Homo sapiens: one gene and its partners. The protein of the gene in region 1 purifies or fractionates together with the protein of each later gene. This does not show direct contact. Each region holds a gene or a part of one and is shown in the gene's direction. Other genes may lie near its edges.

The links.
Region 2: the proteins of TBC1D14 (region 1) and TCHH purify together in Homo sapiens (affinity purification with mass spectrometry; one large-scale study listed by BioGRID and IntAct). This does not show direct contact.
Region 3: the proteins of TBC1D14 (region 1) and VILL purify together in Homo sapiens (affinity purification with mass spectrometry; one large-scale study listed by BioGRID and IntAct). This does not show direct contact.
Region 4: the proteins of TBC1D14 (region 1) and TRAPPC6B purify together in Homo sapiens (affinity purification with mass spectrometry; 2 studies listed by BioGRID and IntAct, with this or other methods). This does not show direct contact.
Region 5: the proteins of TBC1D14 (region 1) and RAB11FIP3 purify together in Homo sapiens (pull-down; one study listed by IntAct). This does not show direct contact.

What each region holds. Positions count from the first base shown.
Region 1 is NC_000004.12:7,024,826-7,028,325, forward strand, and holds part of TBC1D14 (TBC1 domain family member 14), read left to right. Parts: intron 1-178; coding exon 179-437; intron 438-3,500. UniProt on the Homo sapiens protein: Plays a role in the regulation of starvation-induced autophagosome formation.
Region 2 is NC_000001.11:152,112,113-152,117,441, reverse strand, and holds the start of TCHH (trichohyalin), read left to right. Parts: upstream 1-1,997; 5' UTR 1,998-2,051; intron 2,052-3,330; 5' UTR 3,331-3,361; coding exon 3,362-3,499; intron 3,500-4,363; coding exon 4,364-5,329. UniProt on the Homo sapiens protein: Intermediate filament-associated protein that associates in regular arrays with keratin intermediate filaments (KIF) of the inner root sheath cells of the hair follicle and the granular layer of the epidermis.
Region 3 is NC_000003.12:37,999,995-38,004,718, forward strand, and holds part of VILL (villin-like protein), read left to right. Parts: intron 1-1,461; coding exon 1,462-1,599; intron 1,600-1,707; coding exon 1,708-1,866; intron 1,867-2,401; coding exon 2,402-2,581; intron 2,582-3,173; coding exon 3,174-3,319; intron 3,320-4,260; coding exon 4,261-4,405; intron 4,406-4,724. UniProt on the Homo sapiens protein: Possible tumor suppressor.
Region 4 is NC_000014.9:39,149,839-39,154,122, reverse strand, and holds part of TRAPPC6B (trafficking protein particle complex subunit 6B), read left to right. Parts: intron 1-2,283; coding exon 2,284-2,377; intron 2,378-3,741; coding exon 3,742-3,773; 3' UTR 3,774-4,284. UniProt on the Homo sapiens protein: Component of a transport protein particle (TRAPP) complex that may function in specific stages of inter-organelle traffic.
Region 5 is NC_000016.10:431,481-436,254, forward strand, and holds part of RAB11FIP3 (rab11 family-interacting protein 3), read left to right. Parts: intron 1-4,774. UniProt on the Homo sapiens protein: Downstream effector molecule for Rab11 GTPase which is involved in endocytic trafficking, cytokinesis and intracellular ciliogenesis by participating in membrane delivery. Recruited by Rab11 to endosomes where it links Rab11 to dynein motor complex.

The sequences.
Region 1 (3,500 bases):
CTGTGTCCTGAGCGATGTTAGAATTACCCTTCAGTGTGAGTGCAGGCCTGGCCCTGGCCCCAGCTGTTGCCTGAAAGTGACTAGGGGAGTGTTTTTCATGGAATCAGACTGGAATTCACTGTTCTTTCTTTGTTAGGAGAGATTCAAAATCTGAAAAATTCCAACTTTTACCCCCTAGGATCTTTACCTTATATAGTAAATCTCTGCCCCTCGACCTGGCCTGTCGTATCTGGGACGTGTTCTGTCGCGATGGGGAAGAGTTCCTGTTCCGCACGGCCCTGGGCATCCTGAAGCTGTTCGAGGACATCCTGACCAAGATGGACTTCATTCACATGGCCCAGTTCCTGACCCGGCTGCCCGAGGACCTGCCCGCCGAGGAGCTGTTTGCCTCCATCGCCACGATCCAGATGCAGAGCCGAAACAAGAAGTGGGCTCAGGTCAGCGGGCTTTGTGTTCTTGGCTTCCCACAGCGTAGCCGGCAAGTGGCGCGACTCAGGAAGGCCCCTACGTAAAGTGCTGTCTGAGGACGTAGCCCCTTTGATGGAGTCCCTGGGCTGGAACTGAGGGGGGCCGGGTGGAGACGTGGCTGTGCCACAGGGCGTCTCGGCGGGTCGCCTCCTCTTTGGGTTTCTGTCAGCTGGATGGGGTGTGGATAATGAAAGCCTTCCCACCTCCTCTGCAGTGGCATTGGGAGGGTCAGCACTTGTATCATTATAGTGCTCTTTACATGTTAGAAAGTACTTTGTAAGCCACGTACCCCCCTTTTTAAAAAAAATAATGCCAGAGACAGAAAGCAAAGTGGACCCACTTACTGAGCCCCGTGGCCATGCCCTGTGGCAGGCTTTTGTGTGTGTCCTTGAGAAGGAAGTGGGATTACCCCCCTCTTACAACAAAGGGAGGCCCAGAGAGGAGGGCGCGGGTCCCTCCTGGGTCTTCCCATGCGCTGCTGTGCCCTCTCTGGGCTGAGTGCCCCAAACAGTGGCGCGGATAGTCCGTATCCCTTGGTTTCCCTCCAGGCATCCCTCCTAGGTCCTGTCCCCAGTGGGATTGACCTGCATTTCCTGTTCCGAGTCTTTGTCATACTAAAAAGGAAAAAAAAACCAGTTTGGGTTCTTGATCCTGCATACACTCTGCATTGGTTTGAAGTCCTTGTTGATTGACGTCTATGAAGACTTTTCCTTTTCTGTACGTGCTACACCATGCCTGGGGGATTTCTTTGTTTTGAGAGAGGGTCTCGCTCTGTCATCCAGGCTGGAGTGCAGCCCCCGCCTCCCAGGCTCAGGTGACCATCCCACCTCAGCCCCCCGAAATGTCTGTTCTTGATTTAACTTTTTTTTTTTTTAATGGAAGATTTAAAATATTTACAAAACTAGAACAGCATAAAATAATGCACCCCCACACGCCTGCTCTGCAGTGTCAGTGACTGTGGAAGCGCAGCGGCTGTTGGAGCTGCCTCCCACCTCTCCCCTTCCCACCATATTGAAGCGAGTCCCAGGCACCGTGTCACCTGTTGGTGTTAGCGATCTCTGACTCATATGGGCTCTTTTAACGTAACTGCAATACCGTTACCACTCAGCTACTAACTCCTTCCTATCATCAGATATCCAGTTTTCAAATTCAGATGTCATAAATGGCTTTATAGTTGGTTGGAATCAAGATCTAAATAAAGTCCATGCCTTGTGATTGGTTGAAAGCTCTGTTAAGCCTCTGTAATATCTATGCCACGCCACTTCTCACTTTTTAGCCCTCTCTTGCTTGCCTTTATTTGTCAAAGAAAACAGGTCATTTAGGCTGGGCACAGTGGCTCACACCTGTAATCCCAGCACTTTGGGAGGCCAAGGTTGGGGGATCACTAGAGCCTAGGAGTTTGAGACCAGCCTGGGCAACATAGTGAGACCCCGTCTCTACAAAAAATACAAAAATTAGCTGGGCATGGTGACGTATATCTGTAGTTCCAGCTGCTAGGGAGGCTGAGATGGGAGGACCATTTGAGCCTGGGAGGTCAAGGCTGCACTGGGCTGTGATTGCGGCACTGTGCTTCAGCCTAGGCAACAGAGGAAGACCCTGTCTTAAAAAAACAAACAAACAAACAAAAAAAACAGGTTGGCCAGGTGCAGTGGCTCACGCCTGTAATCTCAACACTTTGAGAGGCTGAGGCAGGTGGATCACGAGGTCAGGAGTTCAAGACAAGCCTGGCCAAGATGGTGAAAACCCATCTCTACTAAAAATACAAAAATTAGCCGGGCACGTTGGCAGGCTCCTGCAATCCCAGCTACTCGGGAGGCTGAGGTAGGAGAATTGCTAGAACCTGGGTGGCAGAGGTTGCAGTGAGCCAAGATCATGCCACTGCACTCCAGCCTGGGCAATAGAGTGAGACTCCATCTCAAAAAAACCCCAAAAAAGCAGGTCATTTGTCCTGTAACATTTCCCACTGGGGGAGAGTTTTATGGCATATACATATGTCACCCCCCCCACACACATCACACACCTATACGTACACAATCACCCCACACACACAATCACCTCCACGCACACACATTGCACATCCATTCACCCCCCATCTCACACACCCACACAATCACCCCCCACACACCTACACATACACAGTCACCCCACACATAGACACGCACAGATCACCCCCACGCACACTCATTGCACACCCACAGTCACACCCCTACACCTCACACCCAGTCACCCCACACACACATCACATACACAATCACCACACACCACAATCACCCGACACGCACATCACACACCCACCCACGCATACAATTACCCTACACAGTCACATCCACACACAATCACCCCACACACATCACACACCCCCACAATCACCCCACACAATCACACACCCACACAAAATCACCCCCCACACATCACACAACCACACACAATCACCCCCCACACATCACACACCCACATACACAATCACCCCACACACATCACACATCCATACACAATCACCCCCTACACATATCACACACCCTTAAATACACAGTCACCCCACACAGGCATACCCACACACACACAGATCACCCCCATGCACACACATTGCACACCCAGTCACCCACAATCACACACATACACAATCACCCCACACAGTTACCCACACGCACAGATCACCCCCCACACACACATTGCCCACCCCCCCACACATAGATCACCACTTACACATCACCCCACACACACCCACACATACATGCACACATCACACACCTACACATTGCATACCCACACACACACCTACAGATCACCCCCCACATACACCTATCACAGCCCCACACACACGTCACCCCACACATCACACCCACACGTACACATTACACACCCACACACCTCACATGCACATACACACCCACGTACAGGTGCAGGTCAGTCCCTGCGCATCCACATACTGCACACCCACATACACAGGAAAGGATTAAACCCAGATCAGCCATTTTGATCCTTGCATATTTTAGGGACTAGGTAAAAACTATTGGTTAAAACTGGGTCAG
Region 2 (5,329 bases), on another chromosome or scaffold:
GTGGGTAGGAGAACCATCACTGAATTTAAGATCTAGCTTCATTCAGAGAGGAGAAAGGGTTTTTCTGTTATAATAAATGCAATTTGGGGTATTTTTTCAAGGCTGTTCAAAAGCATGGTGATGGGGGGAATTGCCATTCTAACTATAATTTTAGAATGGTTAATGCTACTTTTCCCTTTATTTTCATGGAACCTAAAAATTTCCAGTTCCCTTTAGGGTTTATTCACTATAGGAAAGTAATGGAGTCATGTAAATGCATCCCATCACCTGAACTGAGGTTTCCCAATAGATCACACACAGGAGGATACAAACAAAAGCAGACATAAGGCAGTCCTTGCCCAGGTTATTCCTTGAAGAACACTCATACAAAAGGCTAGTGCCCTCTGTGAGAGAGTGAGCTTCCATGATCACATGATTGCAGTGTGGTCAGTGCTTATGATGGTCCTATCTCAGAATCCAAAGAGTAAGAGAGCTGCATAAAACCCTAAAAAGAAGGGGAAAAATGAGAAGTCTTCACCCTTCACCAAGGAATTGCCACATCAAGTTTGTTAACTGAGCCCAAGAAATAGTGACAGTTCTGACAGTCCTAGGAAAACCACTAAATTGTAGACTTCAGTGTTGAAGTCCTTAAGAGGCAGAAATTAGCATTGCTTATAATTGTCTTCCCATTCCCTGTCACTTCTACCTTCCTCTGTACCCCACATCTAGGATGGCAGCAAGTGAGGGGGCAAATAGAGTTCAACTCCATTATCATTTAGACCAATCTGCACATAAAGAAATAGCCATCAAGATTTAGATTCCAAATTTTCACTCATGCCATTGAAGGACGTTCAGTTGCCTCAAAATTCAGAAAACCAACACTTGCCTCTGTTGGACAAAGGAGGAGACAAAAGTGCAGAGAAGCCATTGAATCATTTAATAGTCTTCATAAATTATGAACCAAAGTTTCATATAGTCTGAAATGTAAGGAAGGAAGTCACTGACAACCATGGATAAAATCCAATTCCTTACAATAAAACAGCACTGAAATTTGCAAATGATCAACCAGATTGAGAAAGCCCTGATGGATATAATGGGCTAGAATGACCAATTACCTCAATGTACTTCCAGGAGAAGCAGACTCAAGTGTTTAGGTGTCATAATCATTAGTAACTTAGGCTGAGCAGGATGATTATATCTACAATAATACATTACACCAGCTCTTTTTCCCCAGGGGCATCAATATGCTAATGAGAAAACTAATGAACAAACTTCATTTAGGTTTAATGTCTCTAAGAATGAAATTTCACAGATTTCAAGTTTTCTTATGAACGGTTTAATAAAAATATATTTCCAAGGTACCCTTCCAAACTTTACTGAGGAGGCAGTCCCCAATCTGTAGGAAAACCATCATAAGACCCGGGAGACAAATGTAAAAATTTTTCCCACCTGCATTTTTAGAGAAGAAACTAACCAATTCTTTACAGCTCTCTCATTGCCCTAGAATTGAAGCAACTGCTTCTGGCAGGGCTTATGAGCAGCTCACCATGGACTGTCACATCCCATGGAGAAATTAATTGGTTTTCATCACTTTATTTCAAAGTTTCTGCTTAATCCCAAACTAGAGATTGTATCTTTTATAAAGCAAATGGCTTAGAGTTTACTCCTTTGTAATGAAGTAATAATCAATTAAGATTGTGAACATTTAATACCTTTGTTTTATTATTTAATTTACTTTTAACAATTTAAGAAAATTGGAGATTCTGCCAAATATTCTACCCTCCCATGTTAGGTGGGGCTGGTACCCTGACTGTCAGGAGGCAAGGTCTGTGAACCTCGTGCCAAATAGCTACGTGAGCAAATAGTGAGATAAACAAGCCATTTGTGGAGACAGAGGTGGAGCTGGGCTTGGTTAGGAATGAATCAGGCCATCCCACAGAGTGGGTGTCTCCTTCCCAAGTTGCTTTCCAGGGCACAATTAAAACCCCTATAAAAGGCCCAGCTCCCAGTTACCCAGTACACTTGCCTGTGGTGTCAGCAAGCACTGTCGACTTCTTCCTCTGGTGAAGTGGGTAAGTCCCATTCTGTGGGATCGTGGTCTTCTTTATGATTCTCCATTTTTATAGCTATTTCAGATGTTGGGATATGGGGGGAGGTTCCATGTGCCAGAAGGTATCAGTATTTTGCAGGGATAAATAAACTATCACTAACTCTATCCCATCTTCTTATGGTTGGAGCCATCACTTGAACTGAAGCATGACCCTTCTCCTTGGGCTCTGAACTCTATACTTCTGCACATCAAGGATGATCATGTGTGGCTCTGATAGGGTTCATCTTCCTAAAAACTGCTATCTCAAAAGTTTGCCAGCCTTCTGTTCTCTTTTACATTGGTTCTACCTAATATGGGCCATCTTCATACAGTCACAGCATTTAAGGTACTGGAGTTGAGAAGTACATAAAGAAGTCAGCTAGATGAACGACTACACTTATCCCACCAGCAAAGCCATTCCATGTATTCTTATAACATTGATCTACTGCTGGCTAATGTTTTATAAAAAGCCAAGATTCCAATGATGCATTTGGGTTTAACAAAACCAATATCATTCACAGTTTTCTGGATTCCGTTTGGTTTAGAAAGGACCTCTCAGAAGCTTTCAATACTTCAATATCCGAATATCTTACTATATCTGAGTTGAGGCAGGTAATATACAGTCTCTGTTTTCTGCATTTGTGTATCTGAATGTTACAATGCCATCTTTTGACTAGGAAGAAGTACTATTTAATCTTAGAATTGCTGACTTACAAATTATATTCTATAAGAGTTCCTAAATCCTTTATGGACTGTAATGTTGAGGAATCATTCATATTCCCTTTTCATTGTTCTATTTTCTACCAACTGTTTTGCTGACATGGCCTCTATCCACTTTAAGATACTCTCAAGTCTTCCTTCACCTTTTGGCTTTTACCTGTCCTCTTCGCTCAACTTTAAAGGAAGGTGTGTAGACATATATAAAATTTTAATTTCTGCACTCTTCTCTTAATTTTCTACTCTGAAATACGGTGGAGAGCTGGAAGAAAGACAGAAGAAAAGGGCATAGATAATCCACATTGGGTGGACAATCAAAAGCTGACAACAGGATAGTCTGAAGATGATTCCCTGGCTTGGAATTTCTCAGGATCGCTCTTTCTCTTTCTGATACAATATTCAAATATTAAAGTGCTCTGAAAGTCCAGGTTGAAATTACCGCTATAAATTCAAATTATTTAGGGATCTGCCTGAAATAGTGTGAATGAAGCCTTCCCAAAAGCAGAAACGGGATTTTGATTCTGGATCTTATTTTATTGTTCTAGGTTTACTTGAACTTGAAGGAAAGAAAAAAAAATGTCTCCACTTCTGAGAAGCATCTGTGACATCACTGAAATTTTCAATCAGTATGTCTCTCATGATTGTGATGGAGCAGCATTAACTAAGAAAGACCTGAAGAACCTCCTTGAAAGGGAATTTGGAGCTGTGCTTCGGGTAAGAACTAACAAGAAAATGAGATCTATTGACTTGAGGCTATGAGATTTATTCTCAGAGGAGACCAGAGCAAGGAATGGTGGTTTTATATTCATTTTACACCACAACAGGTCTACACTACATCCCCCATTCATTTCTGAGTCAAAAGGTACTTACTTGACATTGTAGTCTGAATAATAAAGTATTTCATGTACTTGATGGCATGGCCATGTGAATGAGCTCTTCATGGGACATTACCACAAAAGATGTCAAATCACACTAGACTTGGAGGAACTTAAATTTGTTTCCAAATTTCAAAACTGAGATCAGCCTGATCTCTATTAAAATGGTGCTACCCGTAAATGTTTTGTTCTGTTTTCTAATATGGAATAGAAACCAAATCAAGAATACTGGCTGCTTCAGACAGAAATGGCTACTGCAAATCCTCATAAATTTCTATTGTATCTCTCTCAAGGATGAGTTCATTCTTTCTCAATTAAAGCGAACTTGTGTTATTCTTTCTTGATGTTGAGTAGCTTTGTTAATTTTACACACAAGTTCACGATGCTGTTTTGAATCTTCACCTCAGGCTCTGCCTCTAAGGTGCGTAGGCTTACCTGCTATTCTACTTTGTGTCTCTCTTCCTGCTTCCTTAGGTTTGATCAGCACTAAATTACGAGATGTAAAAATTTCAAACGAATATATGCTTTAAAGTGAGGGTTCACATTTTACATGGGGACAAAACTTGATACACACTGGACATTTTTCTAATTGCTCTGAATGTCTCTTGAATGTCAGCATAGCATAAAATATATCATGTGTGAATATAATTTTACCACCTGTAAATAGTGCATTGTAAAATTTTTGTTTTCACCATTTTTATAGAGACCACATGACCCTAAGACGGTAGATCTGATCCTGGAACTTCTGGATCTTGACAGTAATGGGCGTGTCGATTTCAACGAATTCCTCCTATTTATTTTCAAAGTGGCTCAAGCTTGTTACTATGCTCTCGGCCAGGCCACGGGACTGGATGAGGAGAAGCGAGCCCGGTGTGACGGAAAGGAGAGCCTGTTACAAGATCGCAGGCAAGAAGAAGACCAAAGGAGATTCGAGCCCCGGGACAGACAACTGGAAGAAGAACCTGGGCAACGACGCAGGCAGAAGAGGCAGGAACAGGAGAGGGAGCTAGCTGAGGGAGAGGAGCAAAGTGAGAAACAAGAGCGACTTGAACAGCGCGACAGGCAGCGCCGCGACGAGGAGCTGTGGCGGCAAAGGCAAGAATGGCAAGAACGGGAAGAGCGCCGTGCAGAGGAAGAGCAGCTGCAGAGTTGCAAAGGTCACGAAACTGAGGAGTTTCCAGACGAAGAGCAACTGCGAAGGCGGGAGCTGCTGGAGCTGAGGAGGAAGGGCCGCGAGGAGAAACAGCAGCAAAGGCGAGAGCGGCAAGACAGAGTGTTCCAGGAGGAAGAAGAGAAAGAGTGGAGGAAGCGCGAGACAGTGCTCCGGAAGGAAGAAGAGAAGTTGCAGGAAGAGGAGCCGCAGCGGCAAAGAGAGCTCCAGGAGGAAGAAGAGCAGCTACGGAAGCTGGAGCGGCAAGAGCTGAGGAGGGAGCGCCAGGAGGAAGAGCAGCAGCAGCAAAGGCTGAGGCGCGAGCAGCAACTAAGGCGCAAGCAGGAGGAGGAGAGGCGCGAGCAGCAGGAGGAGAGGCGCGAGCAGCAGGAGAGGCGCGAGCAGCAGGAGGAGAGGCGCGAGCAGCAGCTGAGGCGCGAGCAGGAGGAGAGGCGCGAGCAGCAGCTGAGGCGCGAGCAGGAGGAGGAGAGGCGCGAGCAGCAGCTGAGGCGCGAGCAG
Region 3 (4,724 bases), on another chromosome or scaffold:
TACTTCCAGGCTCTGTAGAGGGTGTGGTTGTATCTTGACTTGTTGGCTGACCCCCTAGGCAGAGCCCTGAATTTTTTAGGCCCTAGTTTTTAAATAAAGTGGGGTCAGAAACTGTGGTCCCATCTGGCCCCAAGGCTGATGTGGGGATCCTGTGGTCTTGTGGGAACAGAACTGCTGGGCCTATGCGAGGGGTCCTAGTTCTCGAGGTAGGTGGAGGTCAGAGAAAAGGCAAGATTTCCTTCTTCCTTTGCCCTAATATGGATGGACAGAAGTGATGAGTGGGAAGAGACTGAGAGAGGAGGAGATGGGGCAAGGGGGAAGAAGGGGGAGACAGGGAAAGAGGAAGACAGGGAAGGAGCACAAAGAGAGACAGAGAAGAAAAGACTGGGAAGGACAGGGGATGAGGAGGAGGCAGAGGGAAGGGAGGAGGAGGTGGGGTGGAGGAAGAGCAGGGAGAGAGGGGGTACAGGGAGAAGAGAGGGAGGGTCAGTGATAGATGGGATACACAGAGAGAGACAGAGAGCCAGACAGTGGGAGAGGGAGACAGGAAAGCAGAAGGAAAGGCGAGGGACGGAGGGAAAGAGAGCCCTGGGACTCAGGTGCCAAGCACAAAGTCAGGGACAGGATCCCTCCTGGTAGGCAGTGGACAGGCAGGCAGAGACAGGGCCTGAGCCAGGGGTCCTGGCTGCCCGGTAATTGCCACTGTTAGGTGGCCTGTAGTCAAGTCAGCCACTTTTGTGAAAGACAGGGCTCTGGCTGCTCTGGTCTGGAGGTCGGCTCCCCAGGGACAACTGTCAGGGTCAGTGTGGGAAAGGACACCCAGGCATTGTCTCCTGCCATGCAGAGGTGAGGTAAGGGAGGCGTCATCATCCCCAATATACAGGTGGGAAAGGCCCGAAGCTTAGAACAATGTCACTGCCAACACAGGGCCTACCTGGGATTTGACCAGAGTCCGCCTGGCTCCAGGCTCTGCCACCCACAGGAAGAAGAAACTACACTGACAGATGTGAGACAGTGTTTCCCCTTCAGTCTTTGAACAGGCTTTGTGTTTTCTAAATGACACTGGATAAAAGGGAATTCATTCAAGAGCTCCAAGGCTTCCCTTTCCGCCCGGCTTCTGTTGCCCTGGCCTGAGCAGCGAGCAGCTGGGAGGGGACTGAACTGCCCCTAACCAGGGTTGTGGCTGGTGGGGTTGGGACTAGGGCTGGGCATGTGGCTGGGATTGGGCCCATCTCCCAAGTGTGGTGGGTTTCAGGGGTCCGTGGGGAAAGGGTCACCTGCAGATCCTTGTACAAAGCCCAGCACAAGGCCCAGAATGGGCCTGGAGCTGAGGGTGGGCCCCTGGCCTGCGTGGATGAGGAAGGCCTCAGAGGCTGGGGAGAGCTTTCCGGTTGGGTACAGGATGGGTGGGCTGGTTCAGGAAGAGCAGCCACCTGTGCCCATTGGTCCCTTATTCCCCAGGTGTGGTGCATCCAGGACTTACACAGGCAGCCCGTGGACCCCAAGCGTCATGGACAGCTGTGTGCAGGCAACTGCTACCTTGTGCTCTACACATACCAGAGGCTGGGCCGTGTCCAGTACATCCTGTACCTATGGCAGGTGTGCCAGCCTGAGGGAGGCAGCACTCACCTTAAAGCCCAAGGGCTGGGCTCTGGGAGTGAAATGTGAGAGCTGGGCCAGGCCCTCACTCACTGCCCCCACCTGCAGGGCCACCAGGCCACTGCGGATGAGATTGAGGCCCTGAACAGCAACGCTGAGGAACTAGATGTCATGTATGGTGGCGTCCTAGTACAGGAGCATGTGACCATGGGCAGCGAGCCCCCCCACTTCCTCGCCATCTTCCAGGGCCAGCTGGTGATCTTCCAGGTAGGTCTCACCTTGCCACTCTGGCCACAGCCTGCCCAGTTCTGCATGGGCCATGGCCCCCGCACACACTTCTAAGCACCTTCTCTTTGGGCCTGGGGCCTGCTTATCATCCCCTAGTTTCCCAGAGCTTGTCCAAGGCCCAGGAGCTCCAAGGTTGGCCCCCTGCCTGAGTTTCCCTCCCCAGTCCCAGAGCCAGATGAGGAATTTGAGTTGAAAGGGAGCCAGGGGCTTGCCTGGGGCTGCACACTAGCAAACCTGGTCCCCACTTTCCACCTCCAAGGCCTGAGCACCCATGCCCCAACCACTCAGAGATGGGGGGAAAGGTCCATTTAAAAAGGGTCTGTCCCTGTCCCAGACTGATGGGATTCCTGCACTCCACACTTAGAGGGTCCTGTACTCCTCATGTGAAATCACCAGTGAGGGCCTTGATGGCTTCAAGCAAGGGTCCCTGAGCTCTGAGGCAATATGTCCCACACTGGGACAGGAAGGCGCCCCTGGGAGCCCTTGCCCAGCCTGAGGCCTTGCTCTCCTATAGGAGAGAGCTGGGCACCATGGAAAGGGGCAGTCAGCATCCACCACAAGGCTTTTCCAAGTGCAAGGCACTGACAGCCACAACACCAGGACCATGGAGGTGCCAGCCCGTGCCTCATCCCTCAACTCCAGTGACATCTTCTTGCTGGTCACAGCCAGCGTCTGCTACCTCTGGTTTGGGAAGGTACCCACAGCACTGACCACTTGATTCATGCCCAGATGTAGTGGTGCCAGGCTGGGGGTGGGTCCTCTCCACAGGGCATGCAGACTTTGAGTCCAGCCTCAGATAGGCCGATGGGGGGAATGGGGAGGGGAAGAAGCCACAGGGTCCCCTCTAGAACTTGGGGAAAGTTACAAAGTGACAGGTGGACCTGAGAGTCCGCAGGTCAGAGCCAGGCCCAGGCCGCCTCCCCTCCTTACTGCCTGGAGCACAGGGCATGTCCCTTCCCAGGTCTCTTGGGAAAAGGGGAGGCCTATGCCAGTTTGCTGGAGTTTTCTCTAATATTCAGCATAAACTATGACTGACCCTCTAAGCCTGGGGGCCTCCTATCCCATGCTCTGGACCCTGCGAGGGTCCCAGACCCTGCGATCCAGATCAACTGGGGACACAGGCCTGTAGGGTGAGGAAGATGCCTTGTTCACTGGTGTCCTGCTGTCAGCTTAGGCCTCCTGTGACTTGGGCCCAGCCCCACCCCATACACCCTGTGAACGGGACGTGGGGCCGGAGGTGAAGGCCCCTCCTCATGCAGGGCCTGAGCCATCTCTTTGCCTGCTAGGGCTGTAATGGTGATCAGCGTGAGATGGCACGGGTGGTGGTCACTGTCATTTCCAGGAAGAATGAGGAAACGGTGCTGGAGGGTCAGGAGCCTCCCCACTTCTGGGAGGCCCTGGGAGGCCGGGCCCCCTACCCCAGCAACAAGAGGTAACAGGGTTGGGAGGAGAGTGTTCTTACCCAGAGGAGGAATTGAGGCCCAGAGAGGAGGGTGGGTGACTGGGATTCACACAGAGAGCTGGCAAGACGAGACTAGAACCAAGGACTCTCAGTTTCCCACTCACAGAGGCTCCCACAAGTACAGCCCACGCTTCGCTCCCAGGCCTGGGTAACTTGCGTCTCTCAGATGCTGGGGAGAGTGGGGGCAGTGGCGACCTCTGCTGGCAGCATCCCCTCCCTGCATTGTCCTGGTCCTGGGCCAGGGGACAAAGCACCCTTCCCCACCCTACAGTCCTCAGGGATCACGGTGCCCAGTGTGTGTGTATACAGTGTCATATGATGTGTGGGTATACAGTGTGTGTGGATGTGCAAGAACAGGTGTATTCAGGGTGTTGTGTGTGGTGTGTAAGTGGACAGGGTGTGTGTAGGAGGTAGGAGTGAGGCCTCAAGGGGAGGAGGGAGCTGAGTCCTGGTCGCTCTTGGTCTGCCTGTGGGGCTTGGTTTATGTGCTGCACTCCCCACAATTCTCCTGAGCTCAGTACTCCCGTCTCCTTCTCCCAGCCTGGCTTGCCTCCTTCCACTTTGGGCCGGAGACCTACTCTCTGCCAGGGGTGGGCTGAGGAGCTCCTCCCATCCCAGGGAGGGCGAGACTCCAGCTCAGGCCCTCCCCTACCCCTGCAGCCCTCTCCTAGGGAAATTCATGGGGCACCTTGCGTCACAGCTGGGTGGGGCGAGAGCTTTCTCCATGAGCAGAGAGGGACCCTGTACCCAGAGCAGAGCGGAGTGCTCGGGGAGAAACCACGGGGCTCAGAGGAGGGCCCAGGGCTCCCACTCCTGAGAAGTGGCTTCCCAGGCCCTGGGGTGGGGCACTTGTGCCATGGGCTGGGGTGCCCCTCTGGGTGGCTCACAGCCTTGCTGTCCGTGCTGGCCAGGCTCCCTGAGGAGGTCCCCAGCTTCCAGCCACGACTGTTTGAGTGCTCCAGCCACATGGGCTGCCTGGTCCTCGCAGAAGTGGGGTTCTTCAGCCAGGAGGACCTGGACAAGTATGACATCATGTTACTGGACACCTGGCAGGAGGTAAGGTGGCCATCCCTGCCTGGTGGGGCTGTGAACGGGGGTGTGTTTCTGTTTGTGTAACTGGGTGTGTGTGTATCTAGCCATCTGCCTCTGTACACAGGGCTGTGGGTGAGTCTGACCCTGTCACTGAGCAATTGCATTGCGGTGCATATGAGACCATGGATGAGTGTGCATCACCAGGTGGCAGCAGTGAGACTCCGGGAGATTAGGAGTGTGTTGGAACTCAGGGGTAACTGAGACCATGTTTGCAGTTGTGTGTGGCCCTGTGTGCCTTATGATACTATGTGTGGCTCCAGCGACAGTGCCTGCGGCCGAGCAT
Region 4 (4,284 bases), on another chromosome or scaffold:
AAAATATGTTTTAAGGTGTTCTTTTTTGTTTAAAGAGTTTTCTATGAAATGAGAGACATGTTACAATAACACTAAACTGTAGCTAAATAGTCATAGAGTGACCAATTAAAGAAACACTGGCCGGGCGCTATGGCTCACGCCTGTAATCCCAGCACTTTGGGAGGCCAAGGCAGGTGGATTACCTGAGGTCAAGAGTTCAAGACCAGCTTGGCCAGCATGGGGAAACCCTTTCTCTACTAAAAATATGAAAAATAGCTGGACGTTCTGGCGAGCGCCTGCAATCCCAGCTATTCGGGAGGCTGAGGCAGGAGAATCACTTGAACCCGGGAGGCAGAAGTTGCAGTGAGCTGAGATCGTGCTATCATTGCACTCCAGCCTGGGGTATAAGAGCAAAACTCCATCTCAAAAAAAAAAAAAAAGAAAAAAAAGAAACACTATAACTAAATGACAGTGAAATGTAGATGTATGGTAGATCACTTTTTTTTTTTTTTTAAGACAAGGTCTTGCTCTGTCATCTAGGCTGGAGTGTAGTGGTACAATCATGGCCTATCTTGACCTTGACCCCCCCGGGCTCAAGTGATCCTCCCACTTCAGTCACCCAAGGAGGTAGGACTGCAGGTGTGGGCCACCATGCCTGGCTAATTTTTAAAAAAATTTTTTAGAGATGGGATCCCACGATGTTGCCCAGGCTCGTCTTGAACTCCTGGGCTCAAGTGATCACCTCACCTCGGCCTCCCAGTGTGTTGGGATTACAGGTGTGAGCCACTGCATCCGGCCTGATTGCCTATTTTCTATATTTTTGGGGTATCCAGGCTCTAATTACATTTTTATGGTTAATGTGTATATTTTCTCTCTTTTTTTTTTTTTTCGGACAGAGTGTGAGACTCACTGCAACCTCTGCCTCCTGGGTTCAAGTGATTCTCCTGCCTCAGCCTCCTGAGTAGCTGGGATTACAGGTGTGCGCCACCATGCCTGGCTAATTTTTTGTATCTTTAGTAGAGACAGGGTTTCACCATGTTGGCGAGGCTAGTCTCAAACTCCTGACCTCGTGATCCACCCACCTCAGCCTCCCAAAGTGCTCGGATTACAGACGTGATTACAAAAGCCACCCAAAATGCTGGGATTACAGCCTCCCAAAGTGCTGGGATTACAGACGTGATTACAAAAGCCACCCAAAATGCTGGGATTACAGCCTCCCAAAGTGCTGGGATTATAGGCCATGCCTGGCATATTTTCTCTTTTTTACTAACTTCTTAGTTTAATATTTCTGGTTCTCACTTAACTTTTTGGGATCTTGGTTTCTTCAGCTGTGAAAAGAGTAAGTTGGACCAATTCAGTGATTTCTAACTATTTTGAGTTATGGACATCTTTGAGAACTGGAACACCTTTCCCCATAAATACGCACATATACATGGTTTTTATTTTCATAGGGGTCACAAATTCCCCGATTAAGAACTCTTGGGATGAACAATCTCTAAGGCCTCTTCCAGCTTAAAATTTCATGACTCAGATCTAGTTACTTATTAGTGCCCATTTATGTATATTATTTATAAGATAATATTTTATATTATTCGTAGATAATGTAGTATGTTGAACATCATGCAGTATAGATGTGGGTAATCAAAAATTCCCTGAATTGCTAATTTTTCAATCCAGTTCTTGTCATGACTTTTGGTTTTGTAGCTCAGCCCTATTCCCTTTCTTTGTTTCTATATGACAGGGTTTCTCAACGTCCAAACTGTTGATACTTTCAACCAGATAATTCTTTGTTGTGGCAAGCTATAAGTCTTGAACAAGTCAAGATTCTTGGTTGTAAATAGGGGAAAGAAATTCTGCTTGTAAGCTAACAAAATTGATAAGCTCAAAGAATAGGCAATAACCAGGGGAGGTTAAGGCAGCCAGTAAGATAGCCAAGTCACTCTGCAGACTGTATCTACTTAGAATCCTGCAGGCAGCAGGGACTGTAGACACAAACTACCTTTACTGCCTCCAGAACTAATTCTGATCAGTTTCTGGCTTGTTTTTGTCACTGAGTCTAGATTCACAGTCCTGGACTGGAGTACTTAATTGGCTGAGCTTAAGTCTTAAGTCCTACGTCCATGCTTTAGTTTCCAGGGAGCTGGGAAATATATCAATATTTTTCAGTAATTTGAACAGTTCTTCAAAATCCTTTTTTTAAACAGGAATGACTTACTGATGATAAATCATGTAATGTTGTATTTATCAATAGCTTTACTATTTTAGTAAATCCTTACTATTTTTAATGATTTTTTTTCCTTTTAGTATTTAGCATTTACGTGTGGCTTAATCAGAGGTGGCTTATCAAACTTGGGAATAAAAAGTATTGTAACAGCTGAAGTGTCTTCAATGCCTGCTTGTAAGTTGAATTCGCCTTTCTTACAAATGTTTTAGTAATTTGTTTTCAGGTCTGTTTTTTTTTTTAATTTAACTGAGAGGAAATTTAAAATGCTGAAACTTTCATTTTAGTTTTATCAATGTAACACTTTAGTGTAGTAATATGTAGCATACTACATTCATTTTCAGTAATTTTTGAATAATGGACTAAAATCCAAATTTATAAGACAATTTAAGGGATGATTTTTAACTTTTCTAAAGTTATTCAAACTGTAACTTTTTTAAAGATATTCTTCTGAATATCTCCTGCAGTGTTTTAAGATAGCAAATTTCCCTAGAACATTGAAAATGCTATTTTTTTTTTTTTTTTTTTTTTTTGAGACGGAGTCTCGCTCTGTTGCCCAGGCTGGAGTGCAGTGGCACAATCTCGGCTCACTGCAAGCTCCACCTCCCGGGTTCACGCCATTCTCCTGCCTCAACCTCCCGAGTAGCTGGGACTACAGTTGCCTGCCACCACGCCCAGCTAATTTTTTGTATTTTTAGTAGAGATGGGTTTCACCGTGTTAGCCAGGATGGTCTCCATCTCCTGACCTTGTGATCCGTCTGCCTCGGCCTCCCAAAGTGCTGGGATTACAGGCATGAACCACCGCGCCCGGCCCGAAAATGCTATTTTTAAACAATTGTTTAGGATATGTCTATTATATCAAGCTAAGTAAAACCAAATATTCTTTTATCACTAAATGTCTCCCTAAAGATCTTTTCACCAGAGCTACCAACCAAGAAAAAATGGACTTGAGCTTTATTGTATTTCTTTTCAATTTACAATGATCATTAGCCATGAAATACTGTACCCAAATGTAGGATTCATAAAGAGAAACAAAAGTGCTTACTCAACAAACCATATAATCATCCCATAAAAATAGAATTGACTGGCCGGGTGTGGTGCCTCACACCTGTAAGCTCAGCACTTTGGGAGGCCGAGGTGGGCGTATCATGAGGTCAGGAGTTTGAGACCAGCCTGGCCAATAAGGTGAAACCCTGTCTCTACTAAAAATACAAAAATTAGCTGGGCGTGGTGACAGACGCCTGTAGTCCCAGCTACTCAGGAGGCTGAGGCAGGAGAATCACTTGAACCCAGGAGGTGGAGGTTGCAGTGAGCAGAGATCGTGCCACTGCACTCCAGCCTGGGCAACAGAGCAAGACTCCATCTCAAAAAAAAAGAAAAAATAGAATTGACTTTATTGAATATTATGAAGAATGCGAAAAAGTTTTTGACATAGCAGATTTCTTGACTGAAACTATTTCCTATATGGAACAGAAAATTGATGTTTAGACTTGTTTTCTTTGTATCTAAAATCAAAGAATTATTTGTATTTTTTTTTTTAGGCAAATTTCAGGTGATGATACAGAAGCTGTAGAACATACTGAAATGCAAGGCTTCAACAGTGTAAAGAGATAAATTATTCATGTAAAAGTATTTCAAGTAGTGATGATTTAATTACATTGTTCGATGTTTGTACAGGAGTAAGCATGTATTTTTATCAATTTAACACAGATCAAAGGAGATGAAGGGACATTCTGCCATGACATACACTTAACCAAAACTATTCAAAATGAAAACCGGATTTCAAATAACCAGACACCAAGATGCAGGGCCCTTATTTTAAACCTTTTTATTTGGTTAGAGTGATATGTATTTAGCCATAGATGGAGAAACAAAGCTCAGGGTTTGTTGAATTAGCATGAGAGAAAATTATGTACCAACAGAATTATTTGTGAGAAGAATGAACAAATTTTGATAAAGTATGAATTTGTTTTATTTTAAAAAGCAAACATACTAAATTTTTTTTATTTTATTGCTTATAATTTATTAAGAATGTTTACACCTGTATAAGGATTTCATATATACATTGTATGTGTGTATATATA
Region 5 (4,774 bases), on another chromosome or scaffold:
GCGATTGTCTTGCCTGAGTCTCCTGAGTAGCTTGGACTACAGGCGTGCAACGCCTGGCTAATTTTTATATTTTTAGTAGAGACGGGGTTTCGCCGTGTTGACTAGGCTGGTCTCGAACACCAGACCTCAAGTGATCCACCTGCCTCAGCCTCCCAAAGTGTTGGGATTACAGATGTGAGCCACCGCACCTGGCCCAGACCTTTTTTAACACAGACATAGACACACAGGTGACTGTCTATAAAAGTACACAATTGAGATCATATTGGGGTAGAAGCTAAATTTTTTTTTTTTTTTGAGATGGAGTCTCGCTCTGTCACCCAGGCTGGAGTGCAGTGGCGTGATCTTGGCTCGCTGCAAGCTCCGCCTCCCGGGTTTATGCCATTCTCCTGCCTCAGCCTCCTGAGTAGCTGGGACTACAGGCGCCCGCCACCCCTCCCGGCTAATTTTTTTGTATTTTTATTAGAGATGAGGTTTCACCGTGTTAGCCAGTATGGTCTTGATCTCCTGACCGCATGATCCGCCCACCTCGGCCTCCCAAAGTGCTGGGATGATAGGCATGAGCTATGGCGCCCAGTGAAGCTAAATTATTTTTATAGATGTTCATTGTTTTAAAAGAAACTGGCCTGGCGCGGTAACTCACACCTGTCATCCCAACACTTTGGGAGGCCAAGGCGGGTGGATCATCTGAGATCAGGAGACCAGCCTGGCCAACATGGTGAAACCCCATCTCTACTAAAAATACAAAAATTAGCTGGGTGTGGTGGTAGGCGCCTATAATCCCAGGTACTTCAGAGGTCGAGGCAGGAGAATCGCTTGAACCTGGGAGGCAGAGGTTGCAGTGAGCTGAGATCTTGCCATTGCACTCCAGCCTGGACGACAAGGGTGAAACTGTCTCGAAAAACTAAAAAGAAACTAAAACTAGTAGGTAAAATACTAGTAGATAAAATAAGAAAAATAAGGAGCCCTTGTAATCCCCCCATCCATTAATATCATTAAGAGATAATTAAATATTTAATATGTAAATTAAAATGTATGTAATACATACTTGATTATAGATAAATGTTATAATTTGCATGCATGTTGCTTTGAATCTGCTTTTTGACCTGGTTTTTTTTTTTTTTTTGTGTGTGTGTGTGTGTGACAGGGTCTCGCTCTGTGGCCCAGGCTGGAGTTCAGTGGTACGATCTCGGCTCAGTGCAGTCTCTGCCTCCCGGGTTCAAGCAATTCTCCTGCCTCAGACTCCCTCAGCCACTTAGCTGGGATTACAGGCGCCTGCCACCACTCCGGCTAAATTTTTGTATTTTTAATAGAGATGGGGTTTTGTCACGTTGGCCAGGCTGGTCTCAAACTCTTGACCTCGTGATCCACCCGCCTTGGCCTCCCAAAGTGCTGGGATTACAGGCATGAGCCATTGCCCCTAGCCTGAGCTGTTTCTTTTTAATTGATAGAAATATTTGTACATATTCATGGGATGGGTACATGTGGTATTTTGTTACAGGCATACACTGTAATGATCAAGTTGGGGTGTCTGTCACCTCCATATTTATCTTTTTTTTTTTTTTTTTTTTTTTGAGACATAGTCTCTGTCTCTTGCCCAGGCTGGAGTGCAGTGGCGCGATCTCAGCTCGCTGCAAGCTCTGCCTCCCGGGTTGATGCCATTCTCCTGCCTCAGCCTCCTGATAGCTGGGATTACAGGTACATGCCAGCATGCCCAGCTAATTTTTGTATTTTTACTAGAGACAGGGTTTCACCATGTTGGCCAGGCTGGTCTCGAACTCCTGACCTGGTGATCCGCCCACCTGGGCCTCCCAAAGTACTGGGATTACAGGCGTGAGCCACCGCTCATTGCATATTTCTAACCATTAACCGTGCTCTTTACCCTCCTGATGCTTCCCAGCCTCTGATATCAATCGCTCTATTCTCTACCTCCATTAGATCCACTTTTCTAGCTCCCACATAAGAGTAAAAACGTGATATTTGTCTTTCTCTGCCTGTCTTACTTGACTTCACATAATGACCTCCATTTCCTTCCACGTTGCTGCAAATGACATGATTTCATTTTTTTACGTGGCCAAATAGTACTCCAGGCCGGATGCGGTGGCTCACGCCTGTAATCTCAGCACTTTGGAAGGCCAAGGCGGGCGGATCACGAGGTCAGGAGATCGAGACCATCCTAGCTAACACGGTGAAACCCTGTCTCTACTAAAAATACAAAAAAAAAAAAAATTAGCTGGGTGTGGTTGCGGGCGCCTGTAGACCCACCTACTTGGGAGGCTGAGGCAGGAGAATGGCGTGAACCTGGGAGGTGGAGCTTGCAGTGAGCCGAGATCGTGCCACTGCACTCCAGTCTGGGTGACAGAGCGAGACTCTGTCTCAAAAAAAAAAAAAAAAAGTACTCCATTGTGTATCTATATTACATTTTCTTTATCCATTCAACTGTTGATGGACACTTAGATTGATTCCATATCTTTGCTATTGAGAACAGTGCTGCAGTAAACATGGGGTGCAGGCATCCCTGTGGTATATGGATTTCCTTTCCTTTGGATAAATCTCAGTAGTGGGATTGCTGGATTGTATAGTAGTTGACCTAAATTTTTTGAAATTGAAGGTCTCTGATATCAGATGTATATTTATTTATTTAAAAATTTCTTTATTTTTTGAGACAGAGTTCACTATTGTTGGCTAGGCTGGAGTGCAATGGCACGATTTTAGGTCACTGCAACCTTCGCCTCCTGGGTTCAAGCAATTCTCCTGCCTCAGCCTCCTTAGTAGCTGGGATTACAAGCATGTGCCACCATGCTCGGCTAATTTTTTGTATTTTTAGTAGAGGCGGGGTTTCGCCATGTTAGCCCAGGCTGGTCTCGCGCTCCTGACCTCAAGTGATCTGCGTGCCGCAGCCTCCCAAAGTGCTGGGATTACAAGCGTGAGCCACTGCACCCTGCCAGATGTATACTTTATTTTTTTGATATAGAGTCTCACTCTGTTGCCCAGGCTGGAGTGCAGTGGTGCAATCACTGGTCACTGCAGCCTTGACCTCCCAGGCTCAGGTGGTCCTCCCATCTCAGCCTCCCAGGTAGCTGGGACTACAGGTACGTGTTACCACACCTGCCTAATTTTTCTATTTTTTATAGAGACAGGGTTTTGCCATGTTGATCTCCAACTCCTGGGCTCAAGTGATCTTCCCACCTTGGCCTCCCAAAGTGCTAGGATTACAAGCATGAGCCACTGGCCTGGCAGATGTATACTTTAATGGAAACCTAAGGTTTACTTGTCCCCAGGAAGATTCAGAATTGTTAAGGATGGCCGGACGCAGTGGCTCACACCTGTAATCCCAGCACTTTGGGAAGCCGAGGTGGGCAGATCACTTGATGTCAGGAGTTTAAGACCAGCTGGCCAACATGGTAAAATCTAAAGTCTACTGTCTACTAAAAATACAAGAATTAGACCAGGCGCGGTGGCTCACGCCTGTAATCCCAGCACTTTGGGAGGCCAAGGCAGGTGGATCACGAGGTCAAGAGATCGAGACTAGCCTAACCAACATGGTGAAACCCCGTCTCTACGAAAAATACAAAAAATTAGCCGGGCGTAGTGGCGGGTGCCTATAGTCCCAGCTACTCGGGAGGCTGAGGCAGGAGAATTGCTTGAAGCTCAGAGGTGGAGGTTGCAGTGAGTCGAGATCTTGCCACTGCACTCCAGCCTGGGCGACAGAGCGAGACTCCGTCTCAAAAAAAAAAAAAAAAAGTTAAGGACTATTCTGGTTCCAGTTTAGGATCTAACATACAGGAAGAGTTTAGTTCTGTGTAGATGGTGCAGACAAGGTTGTTAAGGGCACCAGGCTTATGGATTGCTTCTCTTCCAAGCACTTATTTTGTTTAAATTCTGGAAACATTCAATGTAAACATTAGTTATATCAGACAAAAGGATTAGGCATCCACTTAAGTCTATTATGTAGCTCATAAAAGTGGTAATTATAAAGGCTCCAAATTTACTTAGATTAGCACTTCTAAGTTATTATGATAGAGTGATGTACTAAATATACATCACACTTACAACCAGGTAGAATTGAAAGAAGTTTTGAAGAAATATTAAAAGTGCTTTTAGTTTTGTGTTGGGAGATATGAGTGTGTAGGAGAGGGCGTATGGTGGGAAGGGTTTTATTTGAGGTATTGGCTATATTTCCTGTTGTGTTACTGATTTTGATTATTTTGAAAAGTAGTGCCTTTGCACATAGCATAGAGTTCAAACAGTACAGAAGGGAATCTAGTAAAAAAAATCATTACAGTTGGTAGAAATAAAAAAATTTAAGTAAACCCTAAAGATAAAATATTTACATACTTTGACTTCATTAAGGTTCATATAAAATATACAAAATACATCTAAAGAAACTTGGATTTTCTAGTAAATTAAAGAACTAGATAGAACATTGAATTTGCATCTGCAGATGCTTTATGAAGATGGGCTATTTTTACTGATATTTGGAGAAATGCATATTAGAAAATGCCTGTAATTCCTGCTTCTTGGAGAAGGAAAAAAAGAGATGGGATCATTGGCCAGGCACGGTGACTCACACCTGTAATCCCAGCACTTTGGGAGGCCGACGCCGGCGACTCACAAGGTCAGGAGTTCGAGACCAGCCTGGCTAACATGGTGAAACCCTGTCCCTGCTAAAAGTACAAAAAATTAGCCGGGCGTGGTGGCAGGCGCCTGTAATTCCAGCTACTCGGGGGTTGAGGCAGGAGAATTGCTTGAATCCGAGAGGCGGAGGTTACAGTGA